Linked DNA regions of Homo sapiens: regions 2, 3, 4, 5 and 6 are each linked to region 1. Evidence: fine-mapped expression QTL. A gene starts in region 1. Each other region holds a variant in brackets. All regions are shown on one strand. Distances are from middle to middle. Region 1 holds the start of PCNX1 (pecanex 1). Region 2 overlaps PCNX1 (pecanex 1). Region 3 has its middle 180 kb from the start of SIPA1L1. Region 4 overlaps PCNX1 (pecanex 1). Region 5 has its middle 24 kb from the start of PCNX1. Region 6 overlaps PCNX1 (pecanex 1).

Region 1 (4,000 bases):
GTGAGAATTCAGTTTAACTGAACTCCCAAAATGAAGGAAGTAAACTCAATGTCCTGGTTTCCATTTGCTCTAATATTCTTTCAGTAACATTTGCTAACTACACAAAGAGACTTAACCATGACCACACAGTTTACTACAAGTGTTAAAAAAGAAATCTTACACTGGACCCAGCAACTAATCCTTACCTCTCAAAAATCATTTTCAGTTTTAAATCTACAATTCTTCTGGACATAGAAGAAATTTGCTTTGAAAATTTTGTGACAGCCTGAGGATTCTTAAACCCAAAGTAATTAACCCGTTCATTAATGATGTCATATTCCTGGAAGGTATAGTAGTGCAAATAGAACTCCCTAGGCCAAAATTAATTGAAAATTATAATACTTCACGATAAATTTTCAGAATGCAACAAGACTGAACAAGTCCCCCTAATAAAACAAGCCACAAGCCATCAGCATTTCTTAATGGCTTTTTTTTTTAACCTCAAACAATAAGTCCCTTCAAAACAATTTCAACGAAAAATGTGAATCTGCTTGAGAATGTGCACATCTTCCCTCAAGCAGACACTTTTCCTGCCAATTAGTGAAACTGAACTTCACTTAGGGAAGAATTGGGTGTCCTCACCTTTTGCACTTCTCATAGTGGTCCTCCGGGATTTTCTAACTCAGCACCCTGTCTCTAGCTCCACAAAGAACCTCAAAGTTAGCAGAAATACATTCAAAGGAATTCTCCTAAAATAAAAAGTTCAGATCCTTTCCTCCCCTCTGACTACTTTAAAATTTTATATGAAGCCTTAAGTAACATCTCTGTCCACACGAGTTTCCCTAACGCCCCACCCTAACCTGTGCTTTAGAAACTGCGCTTAACAACTTTCAATGTTGCTTTAAAAACACAGATGATTCAGAGAAGCTGATCGCACCGAATTCAGCAACAGGCAGTACTCTCTCTCCCTACTCCTATCCGCCAAAGGCCTTGAACCAAGCCAAACAAATCTGCTGAAATGCCAGCCAGATTCCCCGTTATCTCCCCGCTCCCTCCCCCCAGGGAGGCCAGGAAGCACCACGGCCACCGGCCACGGGGCCGAACAGAGAAGAACCGCTGCGAAGCACAACAACGGTTTTTTAGAGGCAGGAGGGTTCCGAGCCGGGTTTTCAGCCACCACCCAGGACCCCTGGAGGACGAGCCCGGACGACCCCCACACACACTCGGAGCAGAGCCGCACGGTCCCCCGCGCTCCCGGGGCTCCGCACGCGGATTAGCGGCGAGGCGGCGGGCGGCCTCTCCCGGGAGCCCCGGACGAGGGCCGCGGCGGGGGCGGGCAGTGCCGGATGCCGGGCGCCCGAGGAACCCAGCGTGCCAAGGATGGATGCGGCGTCCCCTAAAGCCGCAGAGCGCTCGGCGCCTGCCACACAGCCCCACGGGCGGGGGGCCCCGGCGGGGACGGCCTAGCCGAGTGGCCGCAGGAGGGAACCCCGAGAAGGGGCCTAGGACGCTGCCGCTTCCCAGTGAGCGGGCGGGGGCGGCCGGCGCGGGTTGCCGTGGGCTCGTTGCTCGTGTCACCTCCGAAACCAGGAAAGCCCCGAAGAGAGGAGTGGGAGCACGCAGTGGGGGCGGGGAGCCTCACACCGAGAGGGTGGCGGCCCCCGGGGGACGAGACCCCGTGGAAGAGGAAGAGGGCGCGACCCCAGCATCTCCCCACCGGCTCGCGGGGAAGGAGCCACCCGCTCCCCGCCCCCACACTCACCATGTAGAGGGTGAAGGGCAGGCCCAGCAGAAAGAGCCACAGGTAGAGGTGCAGCGCGTTCACGAAGGTGGCCTGGTGCGGGTCGTAGTACCAGCCCCCGCTGAGCGCGGCCCACACCCCCTGTCGGAGGATCTGCAGCGTCTGCGACCCCATCCCCACCCGGCGCCGCCGCCGTCGCCGCCGCCGCCGCCGCCGTCCCCGCCCCGGCCCCAGCTCGGCCTCGGTCGCCGGAGCCTGCAGCTGCCCCGTCTATCCACCTCCGGAGCTCCGGGTGAGCGAGCCGGCGCTTCGGCGGTCGCTGGTGCTGCTGCAGGAGGAGGAGGAGGCAGCAAACGAGGAGGAGGAGACCCGAGAGGAGGAGGCGGCGAGCGGCGGGGCGGAGGACGGCGGAGAGGAGGAGACCGGCCTTCTGAGAGCCGCCGCCATCTTGTCTCCTAACACCCGGAGCCGCGGCCCGGCCCCCGCCACCCGCGGCCCGCCAGCGCCCCCACTGCCGCCGCCGCGACCCCCGCCGGCCGCCAGCCCTGGGCCAGGCAGAGAAAGAGGCCCGGCGCCAGGGAGCGACCGAGAGGAAGCCGCGCCCCCTCCAGCTCCTCCTCTCCGCTCCCTCCGCCCCCTGGGCCGGCTACGGTGCGCGCCGCGCCTGGTCCGCCGCGGGCGCCTCCTGCCGACGTCCGGGAGAAGCGCGCGTCAACGCGGCCGGGGTTCAGGGCCCCGGGGGCTGCGGAGGTGGCTGAGACGCGGCTGGCTGGTCCGGAGGACCCCATTCTGCCCCTGGTAGGCCCCCTGGCAAGTTCGCCTACGAGTCTCTAAACGGGGTCTTTCTGACTCCGAAACTAACAGATCTTGACTCCAGAAAAGCGTCCTGCCTGTCATTTATGATATTTGTGAAAGACCTAGGAACAACTGAAGCTAACACCTGAGATACTGAAGGCCTGGAAGAGTTAGGTACGGCTGATGACACTGTTGAAAAGTCATAAACGCACCCAAGTTGAGCAAGAACTGTGTTGGCCCGTGTGTGAGAAAAAATAGCCACGTCCAGACTGGGAGAATTTACTACTTCCAAAGACAAGTTAATAGAAGCGGCACAGGACATGGAAGTATGGAGTGGACAGGTTACCATTTGTACGCGGTGATTGTATTTTTAAATGTGCTGTAACTAGCAGCCATTTTTATTAATGGGCCAATCTAAACAGGGTTGAAAAAGATTAACCGTGACGCCACCCCAAATTACAATAGGGTCTTGTAGATCTCTTTTTATAGCTGTAAAAACGGAATCATTCTTGGCTCTGTGTAATGTTTATAAGGCGTGTCTGATCTCACTGAATAAAATTTTATAGAAAAGTTTGAAATTTGAGTTTATTGAAGTTTGGCTTTTATGGCAATAAAAGTACTGTGTATTCCCAGATTACAGTTGCTATAATTAATGAGGGAAACAAGAGCCAAAGGAAACTGGTGATATTTTAAGAAGAGTAATGAAAAACCGTTACAATACCTCCCAGTGCCATACCACTTTATAGTTGCTCAGACACTATCACACCCATTCCATTCAGACCTCAGGACAACCCTTTGAGGGCAGCATAGCAGCTATTGTTATTTTATGGATGAGAAAACCTGTAAACTCAAGTAAGTGATTGGCCAAATGCTTATGGCCACTTATTGCTCATAAGCAATAAGTGGTTGAGAACTCTAAAACCAGCAGTCATGCTAACTGCATGCACTGAACTTTGGAAGTTCATTTCTCAAGGCTCTCCACCTTATTATCCATTTCAGGTAAAAGTTTGAATTGATTAAGAACAGTTCAGCACCTTCTGGTTATCTGTGACCAGCTTAAATACATGACCAGTTTTCGTCAAAGTGCAAATTCTTAGGGCATCATTCTATAGACACTCTGTGGGGTGGTACCCAGCAATCTGTTTTAACAAGTCCTCCGGAGGATTCTAATGTAGCTTACCACTGTAGAACACCACACCATCCCTAGCCTTGATTTGTTTATGTCCTTATAACCACAAAGCCACTGAGTTCCAGTAAGATACCTTGAAATTGAGAGCTGTGAGTAAACACTGGACAAAATATACTTTAAAATATATTTGTATATCTAAAAGCAAAATTATGATTAAATAATGCAATTTTACAATTAAAATAGTGGCCTTGAAGCTGGTGTCATAGATACCAGCTATTGTCAAGTTTTCATTTGTTTCCCCTAAAGGAGACAGGAAAGCTCTCTGGGAAGGTTTTGGAAGTAATCCCAACCTTTCC
Region 2 (4,000 bases), 200 kb before region 1:
CTGCAAGGCACCCATCGGTGAATCACCTAATGATTCAGAATAAAACAAGAAGTTAGCACTGGAGACCTGGAATATACTCACAAACTCTTACCCCTACCTAGGATTAGTAGTAGCAATTTTGTCTGAAAATTATACGTTTAAGTATAAATCAGCTAAAACCATGCATCCAAGTGAGGCGGACTTCAAAAAAGGCAGAGCCCCAGACCGCCAGCTTGTAAAAGAACTTACATGGCCTTCCATGCCCTCCTGCGGACTCCAGTCTTTCCAGCTATTTCTCCCAGCTTTTAACCGGATTCCTTCATCAGGCCACTGTAGCTCTTTCCTTTTAGACAGGTTGATCCCTTCCAGAATTTGACTGGGATCCACAATCTACATGGTAAATAAAAACATTTCCAATTCATTTTTTTCTTGATGATGAAAAATTATGTAATCTCAAACAAAATGCTTTTCACAGAGAGGAATTACTTTTTAAATTCCTATAATGGAATAAAAAAAAAATCTTAAGAGCTACATCTTGAATTCTTTTCAGCCCTCTGGTAGACCTCACTGCAATGTCCATGAGACAGTGGCTGAACAAGGAACATATATCACCATCACAAAAACTGTTTGCTTTCAGTTTTTAAGTTTGAAGAAATTTTTCCCCAACATTCAAAAATATTCTAGTCCTGAGACTAAGATAAGGTGTGTATTCACAACAGTCCTTCATTCAACAAATAAGAAATAAAAACAAATAAGTAACAAAAACAGCACAAGACCACCTCTGGGCTTACTTACTTGGACTCTGTAAATCACTTCTGCCTTTCTGGAGTGTGAATTGTTGGCAGGACTTAAGGTGTTGCCTGGCTGTGCATCAGTGGCACTGCTCTGACCTCCCTCTGTCGCAAGAAAGCCCACGAGAGTGTGATGTTTGCAGGCTGGGATGCTTTGGCTGGAGCTGCTGGAGGAAGGCAGGCCGTGCTGCACACAGGCCAGGCCGCTCTGACCTGAGGGTTCCATTTGGTTCACCATCGACAGTCGGGATTGGATGGATGATGGCAAGTTTCGAAGCGATATCTGACTAGTAGAAGAGCGCCGACAAGGCACAAACCCAGTGGTGGACATCCGGAGGGATGAATGCCGGCTGCTATAGCAGTAGGAAGACTGGCTGGCTACTGAGGCCCGGGCAGGAGACTGTCTGACCAGGCCCGACTGCACAGAGTGAGAGCTGTGGCTAGTGCCTAGGAGGAGAAACAGCAGCACTCACTCAAAGTAGAATGACTCAGACACAATACTTCTGTTTTGCAGTTTCTAAGACTTTTTCCCCTAAGCAATTAATTGGTGAACTGACAGAACTTAACGTTTATGCCTAAAACTTTTAAAGTTAAGAAAAAGAAATACGTATCTGAGATCTATTTTCTTTTGTGGTTCTTGTAATATATTTTTTATTTGCTAAAGTTTTTTAAAGTTCAAATTCTGTGGCATATGAAAGACAATTAATAATTAAATATTTTACAGCAAATATCAGGACTTAAGGTTGGGATAAATCCTAAAATATGTTTCACAGAAG[C/T]ATTTTAAAATAACAAGAATACTTCCATAATATATCAGAAATGAAATATCTCACGGAAATGAGACAGTCAGAAGGATTTACTAAGAAACACTGCATGATCTCACTTGTGGAATCTGAAAACCCCGAACTCACAGAAGCAGAGAGTAGAATGGTGGTTGCCAGGGGCTGGGGAAGAGGAGGTGTTGGTCAAAGGGTACAGAGTTCCACTGAGTCAAGAGGAACAAGCTCTGGAGGTCTACTGTACAGCCTGGGGACTAGAGTTAATAATAATGTGTTGTATGCTTAAAAATTGTTGAGTAGCTCTAAAACATTCTTATCACAAAGAAGTATATGAGGTGATGGATAGGTTAACTAGCTTAATTTAATCATTTCACAATATATTCACATATCAAAACATGATGTTGTATACCATAAATATATATAATTTTTGCCAGTTAAAAAGAAATATTTATTAAGGCCCTACTATGTGGCAAGCTCTATAACTACTATTTCTCAAAGTATAGTATTACTGCCCTTTCAACTTCTACCAAGGAAAAGCTACACTGTCTATAGAGAGACAGTGAATACCACGCTGTAATTTTCATATACATTTGGGGATCACTACTAAATCGGAATGATCAGTGGCACTGAAAAGCAGGTTCTTCTGCATCCTTTTTCAAGTGGCTTGATATGATTCTTCAGACTTGTCTTTTTCTTGACTCATAAGAGTAATGTAAAATTAATTACATTGAAACATAGCTACATGTACTTTTTACCTAAAAATAAAAAGAGCTAATCAAGGTAAGAACAAAAAGTACATTTAAAGAACACTGAAAGTTTTAGGTTTTCACCTAAATAAAAAATATTTAATTATTCATTATGTCTTTCATATGCCACAGAATTTGAACTTTAAAAAACTTCAGCAAATAAAAAAAAAATTACAAAAACCACAAAAGAAAACAGATCTCAGATACGTATTTCTGAACATCCAAAATGTTGATCTATCAGGTCTCTTCACTTGAATCCCATTGAAAATATATATATTTAAATTTAATAAATGTCTTTACATTTAAGTAAATGTCTTAGAACTTTATTTGATTCACGTGAAGCAGTCAGGGGGGCAGTTGGGGAGAGGATCAACTTCTTCATATGGCTGGATCAACTGCCCAGCCATATGGAGACAGTTGAGACCTGATTCCTTCTGCACACCAGGTGGATTGTAGATCTCATGTCAAAGGGAAATTAATAAAAGCATACTTTGAGGGCCTAGGGACAGGGAAAATTTTCTTAATTAGGACATAAAAAGTACTAATGATAAAATAAATGAATAGTAAGTTGTTCTCACTAAAACTAAGGACTTCTCATCAGAAGAAGGCAAGTAACTCTTCACAGTAAGAGAATGAAAAGACAAGGGACAGAATGGGAAAAGATATTTGTGGTACAGAAAACTGAAAGAGCTCAAATCCAGAATATAAAACACAAATCAGTAAGAAAAAGATAACCAAATAGAAAAATAGGCAAAAGATGTAACTAGGCACTTTAGAAAGAGGAGCTGCTGATAAATTCATTAAAAACTTCCATTCTTAGGTATCAGAGTAATGCAAATTAAAAGAATAAAATTAAAGACCACCCCTTCTCCTGCCCCCACTGGAGCAAGCAAGGAGCAGAGGCAGGAACTGACAATCTTCAAAGCTGGGAAGGTTGATAGGACTGGTGAGAGTACCAACTGGTTTAAAAAAAAAAAAAAACCTTTCTGGAAAGATTTTTGGCATTATATATCAAGAGTCTTATTCTCATAGGCTTTGGCCTAGTGATTTCATTTTTAAAGTCTCTAACCTATGAAAATAATAAATGATTATAAAGACTTATATACAAAGACTATTACAACATTGTTAGAAGAAAAACCAAGTAATTGTCCAACAGGGGAGAAGTTAATTATAATAGTTAAATATTGTTAGCCTTTAAAAATTATATTTTCAGCTGGGCGTGGTGGCTCACGCCTGTAATCTCAGCACTTTGGGAGGCCAAGGTGGGCGGATCACAAGGTCAGGAGATCGAGACCATTCTGGCTAACATGGTTGAAACCTCGTCTCTACGAAAAATACAAAAAAAAAATTAGTTGGGCGCAGTGGCATGCACCTGTAGTCCCAGCTACTCGGGAGGCTGAGGTAGGAGAATGGTGTGAACCCAGGAGGCAGAGCTTGCAGTGAGCCGAGATGGCACCACTGCACTCCAGCCTGAGCAACAGAGTGAGACTCTGTCTCAAAAAATTAAAAATAATAAAAAAAATAAAAATTATATTTTCAAAGAATCCTTAATATATTAAAATGTTTATGTTGAATTATCAAGTTTTAAAAGTATATATACAAATATATAAAATATATATTTATATATATAAAATAATATGAACAAATGGAATAATGTACAACTTGGAATAAAAAAAATTATATTTCTGGGCTGGGTGTGGTGGCTCAC
Region 3 (4,000 bases), 240 kb before region 1:
GACAGAGCAAGAAAGAGGTCAAAGCCTGAGTTACTAGCTCTACTGGGCTTAATTTCCACATAGGAAGGTAAGGCAAACACAGCAGTGTAGCACGTTGTTGCTGAACGGAACTCAGGTTGATCTGGTCTGACTTTTCCATTGTTCAGTTGAGGACACCAAGAGGCTTGGTAGCCCTGCCCAAAGTCACAGAGAGAGCTTGGGCTGAGCCTGGACTAGACCCAGGTCTCAGGCCTCAGGCTCGACTACCCTTTTTTGTAAGGTCTAGTTTTTGTCGTAAGGGAATGACCACATTTTGTTGAGGCAGCCAGGGACTTATTGCTACCGGCATCTAGTGGGTAGAGGTCAAAGATGCTGCTGAAAATGGCACACATATGACAGCCCCACAATAAAGAACTGTCATGCCCAGAGCGTCAACTCAGCTGACTCTGTTGGCGAGTGTAGGTAACACTCTAGGCTGATCACCCAAGCTTCCTGGAAGAGTGGAATTGCAAGAGGGGAAAAAAATGCAGTGGAAATAGCTTATAGTTTAGCATTTCCACTGTTTGGTGAGAAAACAGGTGTAGTGTCTTTTTTCTGACACTTCTGATACCAAGTGTGTGGAGAGTGTTCCACACTCGTGACCCGTGACTCTGACATCAACAGGAATCCAACAGTCAATTCAGTTCTAACTCCTGGAGTTAGAGCCAACAGTGCATGTTCAAGGCTCCGTCCCAGACTGCCCCTGCTTCAGATGCCAGCCACAAGTCCAAGAAGCCGCCCATACTTCTGACTATACATTTGGGAGTTTCTACAACCCCTTCCTCAGTTTTGATAATTCACAGCTCATAAAACTCAGGAAAACGTATTAATTAACATTTGCCCATTAATTATAAAGGATACAATTCAGGAACAACCAAATGGAAGAGCTGCATAGGGAGGGTGGCAGCCACCACCGTCCTGGGGCTCTGTCTTTCAGATGCACCATCCTTGAAGCGCATCAATGTCTTTCTTTTATTTTTTAAACAGGGTCTCACACCGTCACCCAGGCTGGAGTGCAGTGATGAAATTGTAGCTCACTGTAGCCTCGACGTCCTGGGCTCAAGCAATGCTCCGGCCTCAGCCTTCCAAGTAGCTGAGACTACAGGCACATGCCACTATGTGGCTAAACAAAAAAAATTTGTTTGAGGGGCTGGGCACAGTGGGTCACGCCTGTAATCCCAGCACTTTGGGAGGCTTAGGTGGGAGGATTGCTTAAGACCAGGAGTTTGAGATCAGTCTGGGCAACACAGTGAAAGCTTATCTCCACTAAAAATAAAAAAAGTTAGCTGGGCATGGTGGCACATGCCTGTGGTCTCAGCTACTCAGGAGGCTGAGGTAGGAGGATCACCTGAGCCCAGGAGGTCAAGGCTGCAGTGAGCTGAGATTGTGCCACTGCACTCCAGCCTGGGCAATAGAGTGAGACCCCCCCGTCTCTTAGAGGCTGGTCCTGAACTCCTGGCCTCAGGTGATTCTCTCACCTTGGCCTCTTAAAGCAATGTTTTTCTCAACCCAGAAGTTCTCTGAATCCCTGTCATTTAGGTTTTATTCTTGTTTTTATTAAAACAAAATTTTTTAAAGATATAGGGTCTCTCTATGTTTCCCAGGCTGGCCTCAAATTCCTGGGCTT[A/G]AGCAATCCTCCCACCTCAGTCTCCCCAGTAGCTGGAATTACGTTTCAGCCACTGCATCTGATTTCACTTAGGATTTTTTTGGGAGATTTTTATCTGACTTCATTTAGGAGTGTTTTTGCAGGGAGTGGGAGGGCGGGGGCGGGGATTTTAAACACAGCTTTGCTGCTGTGCTTCTCTTACTTTCCTACGTGGAAATTAAGCTCACTAAAGGTAGTAACTCAGGCTTTGACCTCTTTCTTGCTCAAGGTCTGAATTATGCAGGCATGATTGATGAAATCATTGGTCATTTAGTGATTGGACTTTATCTCCAATCCCTTTCCTCTCCTTGAAGGTCAGAAGTGAGGAGGTGGGGCTGAAAGTTCTAATCCTCTAATCACATGGTTGATTTTTCTAGTGACCAGCCCCCATCCTGAAGCTATCTAGGGCCTCTCCATGACTCATCTCATTAGCATACAGGACTATCAGTTCCAAGGATTTTGAGGCGCTGTGTCAGGAACCAGGGACAAAGACCAAATATTTATTTTGTATCATACCACAGCAAGCCCCGGATGGCTCAATGTCTTGGGCTGAAAGGAAGGGGCTGTTTGAGTCAGGAGACAAGAGAACAACAGTGGGAGGTGTCCTCTGTGTTCATACTCCCCTGTGTGGTTTGGTGAGCCTCAGGCTTTACAGGATGTAGGTGATGTGGGCCCTCCGTTACCTCATCTTATACTCAGGCTATGAAATGCGTCAGATGCCAGCCTTCTTGTAAAAGTTGGGGAGAGGCTGCTATGGTCAGAATGTTTTTGTTCCCTCCAAAACTCACGTGTTGGAAACTTAATCCCCAATGCAACAGCATTGGGTGGTGGGGTTTACTGGGAGGTGTTCAGGTCATGAGGGTGGAGCATGAGTGGATTAAAGCCAGTCTAAAAAGGGCTTGTGGATGTGGGTTCCCTCTGTTCTGCATTTCTGTCCTGTAAGGAACAGTGATTGCCCCTGCTCCGGAAGATGTAATGTGTAAGGTACCATCCTGGGGGTGGCCCTCTCCAGACACCAAGCCTGCTGGCACCTTGATCTTGGACTTCCCAGCCTCCAGAACTGTGAGAAATAAATTTCTGTTCTTTATTAATTACCCAGCAATTTTTATAGCTGCACAAAATGGTTTAAGACAGAGGTCATAGCAAGCTTCAGTTTTTACTTTTTCCCCTTGCATCTGAACAATTGCAAGCAGAAAGAACAACTGAGTGCTTTATTTCTGCAACCACCATGCTGCTACTGAGTGAAGGGGAAGGAGGGGTAAGAGCTTGCCTTCTTTCCTTGTGTTAATTGCAACATCTTCCAAAACCCAGCAAGGAAGGCATGAAGTGAGCCTACCAAGGCCAGTCTCCAGATGAGGGGACTATAGCTACAGATTGCTATGTTTCCTGTTGGTGGTGGTAGCAAGATTTCATAGGGGCCTTTCTTGCCATTGCTCAAAATGAAATGCATTGACACCAAAGGAAGTGGTGAAACTGTGGGCATTGTATGCTTTAGAAATTTGATATTTGGAAACCTGCAGACCTGAAGAGGCAGTAGCTTCTCCTGAAGATCTGATATCCAAGGGCTACCCAGACAAGGAGCTGACTTGTCAGGAAGTGTGGTGGACCTTGACGCAAAAACTCAAACCACAAATGTTTCACTTCTAAATTTTTGCAGGCTTTGTTATATAGACATTTTTGTTAAGCCCTGTCTAAAACAATAGGATGACTGGGTTCTTTCCCCTCCTCATGGTGACTACGTGCATCTTCTACGAACATTCCCATGTCATGTGGTCAGCTTCCAAGAAAGACTTTACCAATGAGTCTGTTTACAGATTCTCAACCAGAGGACTTACAGGAATGCACAGTAGCTATTTGTTTGGGATGCAGAGGTACATGAGCCCCAGACCTCATCCCCAATCAGGCAGTTGGGTAGGAATGGTGTGGTTACTGATGGTGGGAGGACAGGGATGGTGGGGACTTTCCTGTGGAGGGCCCACCACTGAAGAAATCTCTCTACCTCCTGGTTTGATCCAGGCTTTCCAGGGATAAAATAAGAGGGGGAAACAAAGAAGTAATCATTCCCCAGCCCCCAGTATGCCCCATCTCTGACTCAGCTCCCAGCAGAGCAGTAATAGGTCCCTGCTTATCAGATGGCATCGGAAGGGGGTGGGTGCCTGGGTGGGTGCCTGGCTGTGTGCAGTGAGGAGGTCTCAGCAGCAGCCTCTGAAGCCAACTGCTTGGCTGGAATCTAGGTGCGCTACTCACTAGCTGGGGAACTTACAGCAAGTTACTTCACCTCTTACGCCTCAGTTTTCTCATCTGCCAAAAGGGAGTACTAATAGCAGCATCATTGAC
Region 4 (4,000 bases), 31 kb before region 1:
AAGAGAGTGGGGGCCAATATTCAACATTCTTAAAGAAAAGAATTTTCAACCCAGAATTTCATATCCAGCCAAACTAAGCTTCATATGTGAAGGAGAAATAAAATCCTTTACAGACAAGCAAATGCTGAGAGATTTTGTCACCAGGCCTGCCTTACAAGAGCTCCTGAAGGAAGCACTAAACATGGAAAGGAACAACCAGTAGCAACCACTGCAAAAACATGCCAAATTGTAAAGACCATTGATGCTAGGAAGAAACTGCATCAACTAACGGGCAAAATAACCAGCTAGCATCATAATGACAGGATCAAAATCACACATAACAATATTAACCTTAAATGTAATTGGGCTAAATGCTCCAATTAAAAGACACAGACTGGCAAATTGGATAAAGAGTCAAGACCCATCAGTGTGCGCTGCATTCAGGAGACCCATCTCATGTGCAGGGACACACATAGGCTCAAAATAAAGGGATGAAGGAAGATCTACCAAGCAAATGGAAAACAAAAAAAACAAGGTTGCAATCCTAGTCTCTGATAAGACAGACTTTAAACCAACAAAGATCAAAAGAGACAAAGAAGGCCATTGCATAACGGTAAAGGTATCAATTCAACAAGAAGAGCTAACTATCCTAAATACATATGCACCCAATACAGGAGCACCCGGATTCATAAAGCAAGCTCTTAGAGACCTACAAAGAGACTTAGACTCCCACACAATAATGGGAGACTTTAACACCCCACTGTCAACATTAGACAGATCAACGAGACAGAAAGTGATCAAGGATATCCAGGAATTGAACTCAGCTCTGCACCAAGTGGACCTAATAGACATCTACAGAACTCTCCACCCCAAATCAACAGAATATACATTCTTCTCAGCAACACACTGCACTTATTCCAAAACTGACGACACAGTTGGAAGTAAAGCACTCCTCAGCAAATGTAAAACAACAGAAGTTATAACAAACTGTCTCTCAGACCACAGTGCAATCAAACTAGAACTCAGGATTAAGAAACTCACTCAAAACCACTCAACTACATGGAAACTGTACAACCTGCTCCTGAATGACTACTGGGTACATAACAAAATGAAAGCAGAAATAAAGATGTTCTTTGAAACCAATGAGAACAAAGACACAACATACCAGAATCTCTGGGACACATTTAAAGCAGTGTGTAGAGGGAAATTTATAGCACTAAATGTCCAGAAGAGAAAGCAGGAAAGATCTAAAATTGACACCCTAACATCACAATTAAAAGAACTAGAGAAGCAAGAGCAAACACATTCAAAAGCTAGCAGAAGGCAAGAAATAACTAAGATCAGAGCAGAACTGAATGAGACAGAGACACAAAAAACCCTTCAAAAAAAATCAATGAATCCAGGAGCTGGATTTTTGAAAAGATCAACAAAATTGATAGACCACTAGCAAGACTAATAAAGAAGAAAAGACAGAAGAATCAAATAGACGCAATAAAAAATGATAAAGGGGATGTCACCACCTATCCCACAGAAATACAAACTACCATCAGAGAATACCATAAACACGTCTACGCAAATAAGCTAGAGAATCTAGAAGAAATGGATAAATTCCTGGACACATACACCCTCCCAAGACTAAATCAGGAAGAAGTTGAATCCCTGAATACACCAATAGCAGGCTTTGAAATTGAGGCAATAATTAATAGCCTACCAACCAAAAAAAGTCCAGGACCAAAGGGATTCACAGCCAAATTCTACCAGAGGTATAAGGAGGAACTGGTACCATTCCTTCTGAAACTATTCCAATCAATAGAAAAAGAGAGAATCCTCCCTAACTCATTTTATGAGGCCAGCATCATCCTGATACCAAAGTCGGACAGAGACACAACCAAAAAAGAGAATTTTAGACCAATATCCTTGATGAACACTGATGCAAAATCCTCAATAAAATACTGGCAAACCGAATCCAGCA[G/A]CACATCAAAAAGCTTATCCACCATGATCAAGTGGGCTTTATCCCTGGGATGCAAGGCTGGTTCAATATACACAAATCAACAAATGTAATCCAGCATATAAACAGAACCAAAGACAAAAACCACGATTATCTCAATAGATGCAGAAAAGGCCTTTGACAAAATTCAACAACACTTCATGCTAAAAACTCTCAATAAATTAGGTATTGATGGGACGTATCTCAAAATAATAAGAGCTATCTATGACAAACCCACAGCCAATAATCATACTGAATGGGCAAAAACTGGAAGCACTCCCTTTGAAAACTGGCACAAGACAGGTATGCCCTCTCTCACCACTCCTATTCAACATAGTGTTGGAAGTTCTGGCCAGGGCAATCAGGCAGGAGAAGGAAATAAAGGGTATTCAATTAGGAAAAGAGGAAGTCAAATTGTCCCTGTTTGCAGATGACATGATTGTATATTTAGAAAACCCTATCGTCTGAGCCCAAAATCTCCTTAAGCTGATAAGCAACTTCAGCAAAGTCTCAGGATACAAAATCAATGTGCAAAAATCACAAGCATTCCTATATACCAATAACAGACAGAGAGCCAAATCATGAATGAACTCCCATTCACAATTGCTTCAAAGAGAATAAAATACCTTGGAATCCAACTTACAAGGGATGTGAAGGACCTCTTCAAGGAGAACTATAAACCACTGCTCAACGAAATAAAAAAGGACACAAACAAATGGAAGAACATTCCATGCTCATGGATAGGAAGAATCAATATTGTGAAAATGGACATACTGCCCAAGGTAATTTATAGATTCAATGCCATCCCCATCAAGCTACCAATGACTTTCTTCACAGATTGGAAAAAAACTACTTTAAAGTTCATATGGAACCAAAAAAGAGCCCGCACTGCCAAGACAATCCTAAGCCAAAAGAACAAAGCTGGAGGCATCATGCTACCTGACTTCAAACTCTACTACAAGGCTACAGTAACCAAAACAGCATGGTCCTGGTACCAAAACAGAGATATAGACCGATGGAACAGAACAGAGCCCTCAGAAATAATACCGCACATCTACAGCTATCTGATCTTTGACAAATCTGACAGAAACAAGAAATGGGGAAAGGATTCCCTATTTAATAAATGGTGCTGGGAAAACTGGCTAGCCATAGGTAGAAAGCTGAAACTGGATCCCTTTCTTATACCTTATACAAAAATTAATTCAAGATGGATTAAAGATTTAAATGTTAGACCTAAAACCATAAAAACCCTAGAAGAAAACCTAGGCAATACCATTCAGAACATAGGCATGGGTAAGGACTTCATGACCAACACACCAAAAGCAATGGCAACAAAAGCCAAAATTGACAAATGGGATCTAATTAAACTAAAGAGTTTCTGCACAGCAAAAGAAACTACCATCAGAGTGAACAGGCAACCTACAGAACGGGAGAAAATTTTTACAATCTATCCATCTGACAAAGGGCTAATATCCAGAATCTACAAAGAACTTAAACAAATTTACAAGAAAACAATCAAACAAACCCATCAAAAAGTGGGCAAAGGATATACACAGACACTTCTCAAAAGAAGACATTTATCCAGCCAACAGACACATAAAAAAATGCTCTTCATCACTGGCCATCAGAGAAATGGAAATCAAAACCACAATGAGATACCATCTCACACCAGTTAGAATGGTGATCATTAAAAAGTCAGGAAACAACAGGTGCTGGAGAGGATGTGGAGAAATAGGAACACTTTTACACTGTTGGTGGGACTGTAAACTAGTTCAACCATTGTGGAAGACAGTGTGGCAATTCCTCAAGGATCTAGAACTAGAGATACCATTTGACCCAGCCATCCCATTACTGGGTACTTAGCCAAATGATCATAAATCATGCTGCTATAAAGACACATGCAACACGTATGTTTAATGCAGTACTATTCACAATAGCAAAGACTTGGAACCAACCCAAATGTCCATCAATGATAGACTGGATTAAGAAAATGTGGCACATATACACCATGGAATACTATGTAACCATAAAAAA
Region 5 (4,000 bases), 24 kb after region 1:
CTGTTGAACTGTTTTAACAGAAATCTAAGGTTCTTCTTATTTTTGTTGGAGGGAATGATGGCAATGGTGACAATGGTGTTGGCATTACTGAGTATAAGAATGAATGTATAAATCAACAGTGACAAATGAGTAATACATAAGCCAGAGAGCTTTTGTGATCAATTCTGCAGAGGCCCGTTCCCCCTCCTGGTGGTTTCTCTGTTCTTGGCAAAGACTCCTCTCACTTGCTTTATTTCTCAGCCTGAGCCACAGCAATCTCTATAGTTCAATATAAATAATGAGGGTGATATTGATAATAACAATAGCTCTCATTTATTGAGTGCTCCAAGTGCCAGGCACTCTTCATATATTATTTATACTCCTTATAACAACTCTTTGAGGTAGACATTATTATGTTCCTTTTTAGCCAAGGAAACAGAAGCCTCAGAGAGGTTAAGTGGCTTGCCCAAGTTTACACAGCAGATAAGATAGTCTTGGATTCAAACCTGAGTCTGTTTGACTCTGAAACCTGTGCTTTCTTCGCTTTATCTCCGCAATACAGCTGTCATCCTTGACTGGGCTCTTGGCCCTTTGCCTGGACACTGTATCTGGGCCTTCGATACTACTGCCCAGTCAGCTCCTGAGCTGCCTTGCTCCTGTCCTTCCAGGTTTGCACCGCTTTGGCTTCTGTCTTTGCTCAGATGCTCACCTGTCTGGCCCCTGGAAACATATGGCGCTCACCTATTTCTTGTCGGTCCACATGGTTCTGCCCGTGGGTTTTCTAATCTCACTGCTCATAAGCAAGCTTGCTGGGCCTGACTCATGAAGGAGTGGCTTGATGCTCCCAGACTCTGGGTAACTGTCCCTCATTCTAGACCCTCCTGCCTCATAAGTAGAGTCTCCCCTATCATCCAGCCTGGCTCACCATTGCAGAAGAATGTTTCCTGCCTGTGTCAGAGAAACCAGCCACCTGGGTTCTTCTATCTGCTCCTGCTGTGCTCTGTCTTGAATACTCTTCCTTTCTTTCAAAACCACATTCTATTGCTCAGCTCATACCTGACTCAAAACCCAACCTACTGCCCACAGACTAAGATCTCGACCTGGAATTATATCCTATTACTATCTGGCCTCACTGACCCTTTCAAGTTCCAACCTTATTTTCCAGCCAATTGTTTCCCATCCTTTCTCTGTGATTTTCTGCTCGGCCTTTTCTCCTGCTCTTCTCTGCCAGGAATGCTCATTTCCTCTGTGCTAGTTCAGGATCATCCAAGATCTAGCATAAAATCCATCTTCTTTACAAAAAATGGCCCTAACCTTCCCAGCTGGAAATGGTCTCTTCCTTTCATTGATCTACTGTGGCACTGTATCTAGTGACACCTAACAGTTTTCTACATTTTGCCGTAGTTAATTGTATACATATTTTTTCTCCCCTTTTACACTATAAGGTCTCTGAGAACAGAGAGCATCTGATTTTTTTTTTCTTTTTTCTTTTTTGAGACAGAGTGTCACTCTGTCGCCAGGCTGGAGTGCAGTGGCACAATCTCGGCTCACTGCCTCCTGGGTTCAAGCAATTCTCCTGCCCCAGCCTCCCGAATAGCTGGGACTACAGGTGCACGGCACCAAGCCCAGCTAATTTTTGTATTTTTAGTAGAGACGGGGTTTCACCATATTGGTCAGGCTTGTCTCGAGCTCCTGACCTCAGGTGATCCACCCACCTCGGCCTCCCAAAGTGGTGGGATTATAAGCGTGAGCCACCGCGCCCGGCCTATTTTTTCCTTTTTGATGGCCTTACAGTGCCTAGCAAAATGCCTTGCTCAGAGTAAGTGCTTGATATAAATTTATTAATCCATCAGCTGGATGGATGGATGGATGGATGGATGGATGGATGGATAGATGGATGGATGAATGGATGGATGGGAAGGAGGTTATAGGAATTGAGACTCTGGCTGAGCTTTTTTAGCCAGGTAGCCATGGCAGGAGAAAGGCTTCACCTTTCATGAGAGCGTATGGTCATAATCACAGAAGGGAAAGAATAGCTTGAACCATAGCTTGAACCAGTTAACCATGCTGCCAATAAAATCAGGCCACATGTGTTTACCATGTTTTATGTTTACCAGGCTGCATCAGTAGGATACTTTAAAATATGGGACAGAAATCCTGACTCAACCTCAAACTAGCTTTTATCATAAAGAAATGTATTGGCTCCAATGCAGGATGTCAAAGGCTGGGTAGGATTCAGGACTGGTGGATCCAGTGGCTCTTTGCATCTCTCTGCTGTGCTATCCCCAATGCTGACTTCATTCTGGGGAAAGATCCCTGGGTTTTGGAAGGCTTCCAGTAGTTGCTGGGTTAATTGCTTCCCTTTTCACCTCCTACTAACTTCCTGTGACTCTTTCTTAAGGGTAAGAAAGCATATTTTCC[G/A]GAAGTGTTTAGAAAACTCTTTATGACTCATTGGTCCCAATTGGCCTTGGCCTGCCTACCCCAGACCCATTCACTAGCAACGGGGATGGGGGTGGGGTTCACATCACTCAGGACCCACCCTAGAGCTGCAGTAGAACCTGTGATGGAGAGTCACTCCAACACCCCTTACACAGCAGACAGTTTTATGGGGGCCACTCCAATGAAAGGTTGGCTCTTAGGACCTTCTCATTTTAGACACGCAGTAAACAATGAAAAACATGTCATCCAAGAGATCTCATTGTCACGGATCTTACAATATATCTCTTGCCTAAGAGTCTTCCGGTGTTTCTTGTGCAAATCCAGCGGTTAGTCAACAGGGTTTATGGAACACATGCTGTTTAGATAGTGTTACTCTAAGCACTGTACAAAGTTAGAAAAACAAGACAATGCAGCTACTTAAAAAAAATTTTTTTTAGAGACAAGGTCTTGCTCTGTTGCCCAGGTTAGCTTCAAACTCCTGGGCTCAAGCAATCCTCCTACATCAGCCTCCTTAGTCACTGGGATTATAGGCGTGTGCTGCACTGCCTGGCTTATTTTTTTTTTAACAGTAGAATGAGCATTGAGGAAAGTAGTTCTCTTCTGTTAATTCTGCTCCGTTATTTTCCAGAGTGTAGAAACTGCTTGATTTCCTTCCTCCTTTCTTTGTCCCCTCTTATTCAGCTCTCTCTTTCCTGTCACTAATTTTCTCCTTTCTTATTCTTTCCTCATTTCAGGAAAGCAACATAGCGGAGATTAGGAGTGTAGAATCTGGAGTTAGATTTCTTGGGTGGGAATTCTCACTTTGAGTTCTAGCTGTGACTTTCCAGCCGTTACTTCATTTCTCTAAGCTTCTTTTCACTGGTAAATCATGTCTAAACATTATGCCTACCTCCTTGGGTTATTCTCGAATTTTAAAAATGATGCACATTAAAAATGATTACTAATGGTTAATGATTTTAATTTTCTTCTTCATCTTTTTTTAATTATGCCACATTTTGTGTCCTGTTCCTCCCTCCTACATCCCACAGTGATAGGCTGATAGAAAATAGTCAGAAATAGAGTGCACAGAATCAACTTCCTAGTGAGAAATGGAATGGAACCATTTCAGTTCCTTCTCTTTTCTTCATTATACTTCGAGTATTTAAAGAGTGCTATGTGAATACATTTAAGGCAATGGAAATGTACAAAACCAGTTGAGAGGAACACATATGTGGTACATATGGAAGCGGAAGTATGAATGCTCTGTTCTGCATAAGAATCCCCCAGCTCTCAGTTGCTTCATCGAGGCCTGGTTTGTTCAATTGGTTAGAGCACCTTCTGATGTAACCAAGATCACGGTTTCAATTCCAGAATGTGGTGAGCCTACTTTATCTATTTGATGGCTACAGCCTCCTCTGCTGAACCTGGCAACCATCTGTAAATGCATCCATTGTTTAGAAAATGATCAATCAGAGGAGCCCGGTTGAAGCAATGCAAATCAATCACCTTACTAGGAAACAACACGACAACAGAAAGTACATGCTATCATGGTGGTGGGTTAACTGTATGATGTTTGTACATGAAGAAGGCATAGACCATGACA
Region 6 (4,000 bases), 67 kb before region 1:
GGGCGCAGTGGCTCACGCTTGTAATCCCAGCACTTTGGGAGGCCAAGGTGGGTGGATCACAAGGTCAGGAGATCAAGACCATCCTGGCTAACACTGTGAAACTCCGTCTCTACTAAAAATACAAAAAAATTAGCCGGGCGTGGTGGCGAGCGCCTGTAGTCCCAGCTTCTCCGGAGGCTGAGGCAGGAGAATGGTGTGAACCCAGGAGGCGGAGCATGCAGTGAGCCGAGATCGTACCACTGCACTCCAGCCTGGGCAAAAGAGCAGGACTCTGTCTCAAAAAAAAAAAAAAAAAAGAAAGAAAGAAAGAAAGAGCAACAAAGGACTATACTTAAAATAGGCCTGGATTTCTATGCAAGCTCTATCTCCAACTTACTAACTTGGTAACTTTGGGTTACCCCCCTGTAAATCTGTTTCCTCATCTGCAAAATGGGACATCAACTTCACTGAGTCACAGGCAAGGAATAACTGAGTTAATGACATATATTGCTTGACACAATGCCGTCACAATTAAAGATGGCTATCATTATTCTACCTTACTAACACAATATTAAAATCCTTTCAAAAAGCTAATACGATTATTTCACAAATCAAGAAAACCTAGAGTAATCAGAAACAAACAAACGAAAATAGGCTGACCAATGCCTAAACAAGATATAATGATGTAAGACATCCTCTTGCTGTTCAGAATGGTAAAAACAGCAATAATTACAGAGCAAAATACTGCATTTTATCTTTCATTATTGGTATAGCAATTAAAAAATACTTCATGAAAAAAATACTTACCTTCTTGTATCTGTAAGACCACTGCTTTAACCCTCCATCCAGACCAGTGATTAGTGACTTATCATACATACTAGATATACAAATGTAAATATAGATATAAATCAATGTATCTACCTACCTACCTACATTGTAATTTATCTTGGAATATAGCTTGACAACCAAACTGCAAAATAGCTGATTTTTAAATATATGTTTTGACAGACAAGGACATCTGAACCTGCTGTTAGTTCAATAAAAAGAAAAATTATTGTCTTGTCATAGCTGGATAGACAAAGTAAAATAACAGATTCTATAGTAAATCTGAGTCTTCCCAGTAGAATCTCAATGACCAAAGCAGACATTTCCCCCTAAGATTAAAAGAAAGGAATGAGTTATTAAAAATGTTTATGTAATCTTTAAAAATCTAAATGTAGATTTAGCTATGATTAATTAATTAAAAATTCACGGATAGCCTCTGGAGTGTACCATAAAAATTATAGTGTATAAATGTCCAATTACACTTTATTTTACATTTTAAAGTTTTCAAGATAAGTAAAACCCGTTCTTTATTATTTTCCCAACACAGCTGCTACTGTAGTTGCGTTCTTATATCTTCTAAATATCAAAATTTAAAAGCTAGCATTGTACGTTTTGTAATATTAAATTATAATGTTATTTCTAAAAACTCTTTATCTCTAATAAGCAATTATCGGTTGGTGTGATATTCACATTTCAAGGATATGAATTTTACAGAAAACTTATCGACTCTGAGCAAGTAGTTGAAAATCACTAAATCTAAG[A/G]TAACAAAAGGTTTTTTTAATGCTAATGATCAAAACCAACTTCCTTCTGATAAATTAATAAAACAGAAATGTAAGTATTTCATTTTAAAAGACACAGCCAAACTTACTTTAATACATGCACTTTTTTCGATACTGCTAAACAAATATACCACAAAAGGTTTAATTTTGTCAGAAAGAATTTCGGTGGTTTCAGGAAATTTTCAGGTAAATATATTTTTTCTTACTGTTACCCATATGAAAAAGATTATATCAAAGTTAAGAGGCTCAAATCAACACAAAAAGATACATTTTTCATCGAATCAAACTTTTTTTAAAATAATTGTTATTAGTGGCGTTTAGAATAAGAAAGACATACTGCTCATGGTGGTACCAACTGGTGTAACCTTCTTAAAGCAATCTGGCAATATGGCCAAGAAACTTGAAAAGGTATTCTTATCTTGAAGGTAAGAAATTGTTGCTAAAGGATAGAGTCAAATATGCGTACAAGGTTTTTAGCACAAAGTTGTTCATGTCACCTTATTATAAAAGTTCTTAAAGCACAAAAAGTATAACAATGTCCTATAAATAACGATTGAATATGTGGTCCACTAATAATTTCATACAGGCACTAAAAACATTTTCAAAGATTATGTAATAACATGAGAAAATAATTAAGTGAAAAAGGTGGCACTGGCTGGGTGCAGTGGCTCACGCCTGTAATCCCAGCACTTTGGGAGGCCGAGGCAGGTGGATCACGAGGTCAGGAGTTCGAGATCAGCCTGGCCAACATGGTGAAACCCCATCTCTACTAAAAATACACCACTGCACACTCCATCCTGGGCAACAGAGCGAGACTCCCTCTCAAAAAAAAAAAAAAAAACAACAAAAAAAACCACAATTCCAGTTCTGTAAGTTTAAATGAATGCTAATGGTATATGGGCGTATATTTTTATAAATGCGAAAAGTGATATACCACAGTTAGCCATAAAAAGAAATAACATCCTGATACATGCCAGAATAAGGTAAATGAAAGAAGCCAGACACATTAAAAAAAAAAAAACCACATATAATTGTGTTTATATGAAATGTCCAGAATAGGCAAATTCAAAGAAACAGTAAACTAGAGGTTGTCAGGGGCTGCTTGAAGGGGAAATGGGGAGTGTAATGGGTGCAGGTTTCTTACTGGAGTAATGAAAATGTTCTGGATTTAGATAGTGGTGATGGATGCATAATATTCTAAAAACCACTGAATTATATCAAAGCAAAAAAATATGAAAAAATGATATGCAAAAAAAAGTTTATCAGTGGCAGAGGTCTAAATTTTTTCTTCATACTTAACTATATTTTCTAAAGTTAACATATATGTTACTTTTATAAACAAAAATCATACCTTCTTTCTCTCTCTGATCATCCCTATCAATTGATTATGGATAATAATCAATTATACAAACATGTTGTTATATCTCTTACAACATCTTACAAAATCGAAATCCCTCATCTTTACTTCTCCTGCTTGCTATCACCTTTACAAAAATTCACTGAAAGAGTTGTCTGTATTCACTGTCTGATTCTTCTCCTCCAATTCTCTTTGTATTCCAATTCAACTCCCCTAAGACCGTGCTTATCAAGGTCACCAACACCCCCTAAATTGTTCAATCCAATGGTCAAGTCTCAGTCTGCATGTCACCTGACCTATCGGCAGCACTTGACAAAGCTGGTCAATCCATTCTCCTTGAACACAGGTGGATAACAGTCTTGGTTTTCCTTTGATCTCACTAGTTGTTCCTACTCAGTCTCCTGGACTTCTTAAACTAAAGAGGCTCAGGGTTCACATCTTAAAACTTTTCACTTTTTCTTTTTTTTTTTTTTTTTGAGACAGAGTGTTGCTCTGTCACTCAGGCTGGAGTGTAGTGCTGCAATCATGGCTCACTGCAGTCTTGATCTCCTAGGCTCAAGCAATCCTCCTGCCTCAGCCTCTTGGGTAGCTGAGCTACAGGTACACTGCACCACACCCAGGTAATTTTTTGTATTTTTTCTTAAAGGCAGGGCTTCACCATGTTGCCCAGGCTGGTATTGAACTCCTGGCCTCCAGCCATACTCCCACCTTGGCCTCTCGAAGTGCTGGGATTATAGGGGTAAGTCACCGCACCCAGCTAGAACTTTTCACTTTTCTACCTATACTCCCTCTTTGTAAATCTTATCCAGTTTTCTATCCCCATGACAAACTGAAATTCAGAAATACCTGTAACTAGTTCCTCTACCTTCTACCCAGCCCTCATATTCCCATGGGGACGGTCTGAAGTTCTGATCTTGGATAGGGAAGGTATGAGCGAGAGGTAGGGAAACTGTAGATTATCTTAGAAGTGAAAAAGTTAAAGATATACCCCAATATCCTGTTTTCCCCCAGTCATCCTGAATCATGTGACAAAATGAGTGCCAACTAATCAACTAACTGT

What was found. PIP is the estimated chance that this variant, and not a neighbour inherited with it, causes the effect.
Region 2: its variant is fine-mapped to the expression of PCNX1 in whole blood (TOPMed, PIP above 0.99).
Region 3: its variant is fine-mapped to the expression of PCNX1 in whole blood (INTERVAL, PIP above 0.99).
Region 4: its variant is fine-mapped to the expression of PCNX1 in whole blood (TOPMed, PIP above 0.99).
Region 5: its variant is fine-mapped to the expression of PCNX1 in whole blood (TOPMed, PIP above 0.99).
Region 6: its variant is fine-mapped to the expression of PCNX1 in whole blood (TOPMed, PIP 0.97).

The regions. Positions count from the first base shown.
Region 1 is chr14:70,905,745-70,909,744 of GRCh38, reverse strand. PCNX1 (pecanex 1) reads right to left here and starts at 2,286. Exons shown (of 36, transcript NM_014982.3): 1 at 1,742-2,286. The coding sequence starts at 1,894. RefSeq lists silencers at 1,134-1,473, 1,634-1,973, 2,194-2,383.
Region 2 is chr14:71,105,821-71,109,820 of GRCh38, reverse strand. PCNX1 (pecanex 1) reads right to left here. Exons shown (of 36, transcript NM_014982.3): 34 at 775-1,217; 35 at 229-369; 36 at 1-26. Among named protein-coding and RNA genes, the nearest start is that of PCNX1, 200 kb to the right of the region's middle. The variant C/T (reference allele first, on the strand shown) is at 1,547.
Region 3 is chr14:71,141,844-71,145,843 of GRCh38, reverse strand. No RefSeq gene overlaps it. Among named protein-coding and RNA genes, the nearest start is that of SIPA1L1, 180 kb to the left of the region's middle. The variant A/G (reference allele first, on the strand shown) is at 1,646.
Region 4 is chr14:70,936,466-70,940,465 of GRCh38, reverse strand. All of the region lies in intron 1 of PCNX1 (pecanex 1), which reads right to left. All of the region lies in intron 2 of LOC105370557 (a long non-coding RNA gene), which reads left to right. Among named protein-coding and RNA genes, the nearest start is that of PCNX1, 31 kb to the right of the region's middle. The variant G/A (reference allele first, on the strand shown) is at 1,952.
Region 5 is chr14:70,881,697-70,885,696 of GRCh38, reverse strand. No RefSeq gene overlaps it. Among named protein-coding and RNA genes, the nearest start is that of PCNX1, 24 kb to the left of the region's middle. The variant G/A (reference allele first, on the strand shown) is at 2,401.
Region 6 is chr14:70,972,669-70,976,668 of GRCh38, reverse strand. The region is part of intron 5 of PCNX1 (pecanex 1); the gene reads right to left. Among named protein-coding and RNA genes, the nearest start is that of PCNX1, 67 kb to the right of the region's middle. The variant A/G (reference allele first, on the strand shown) is at 1,566.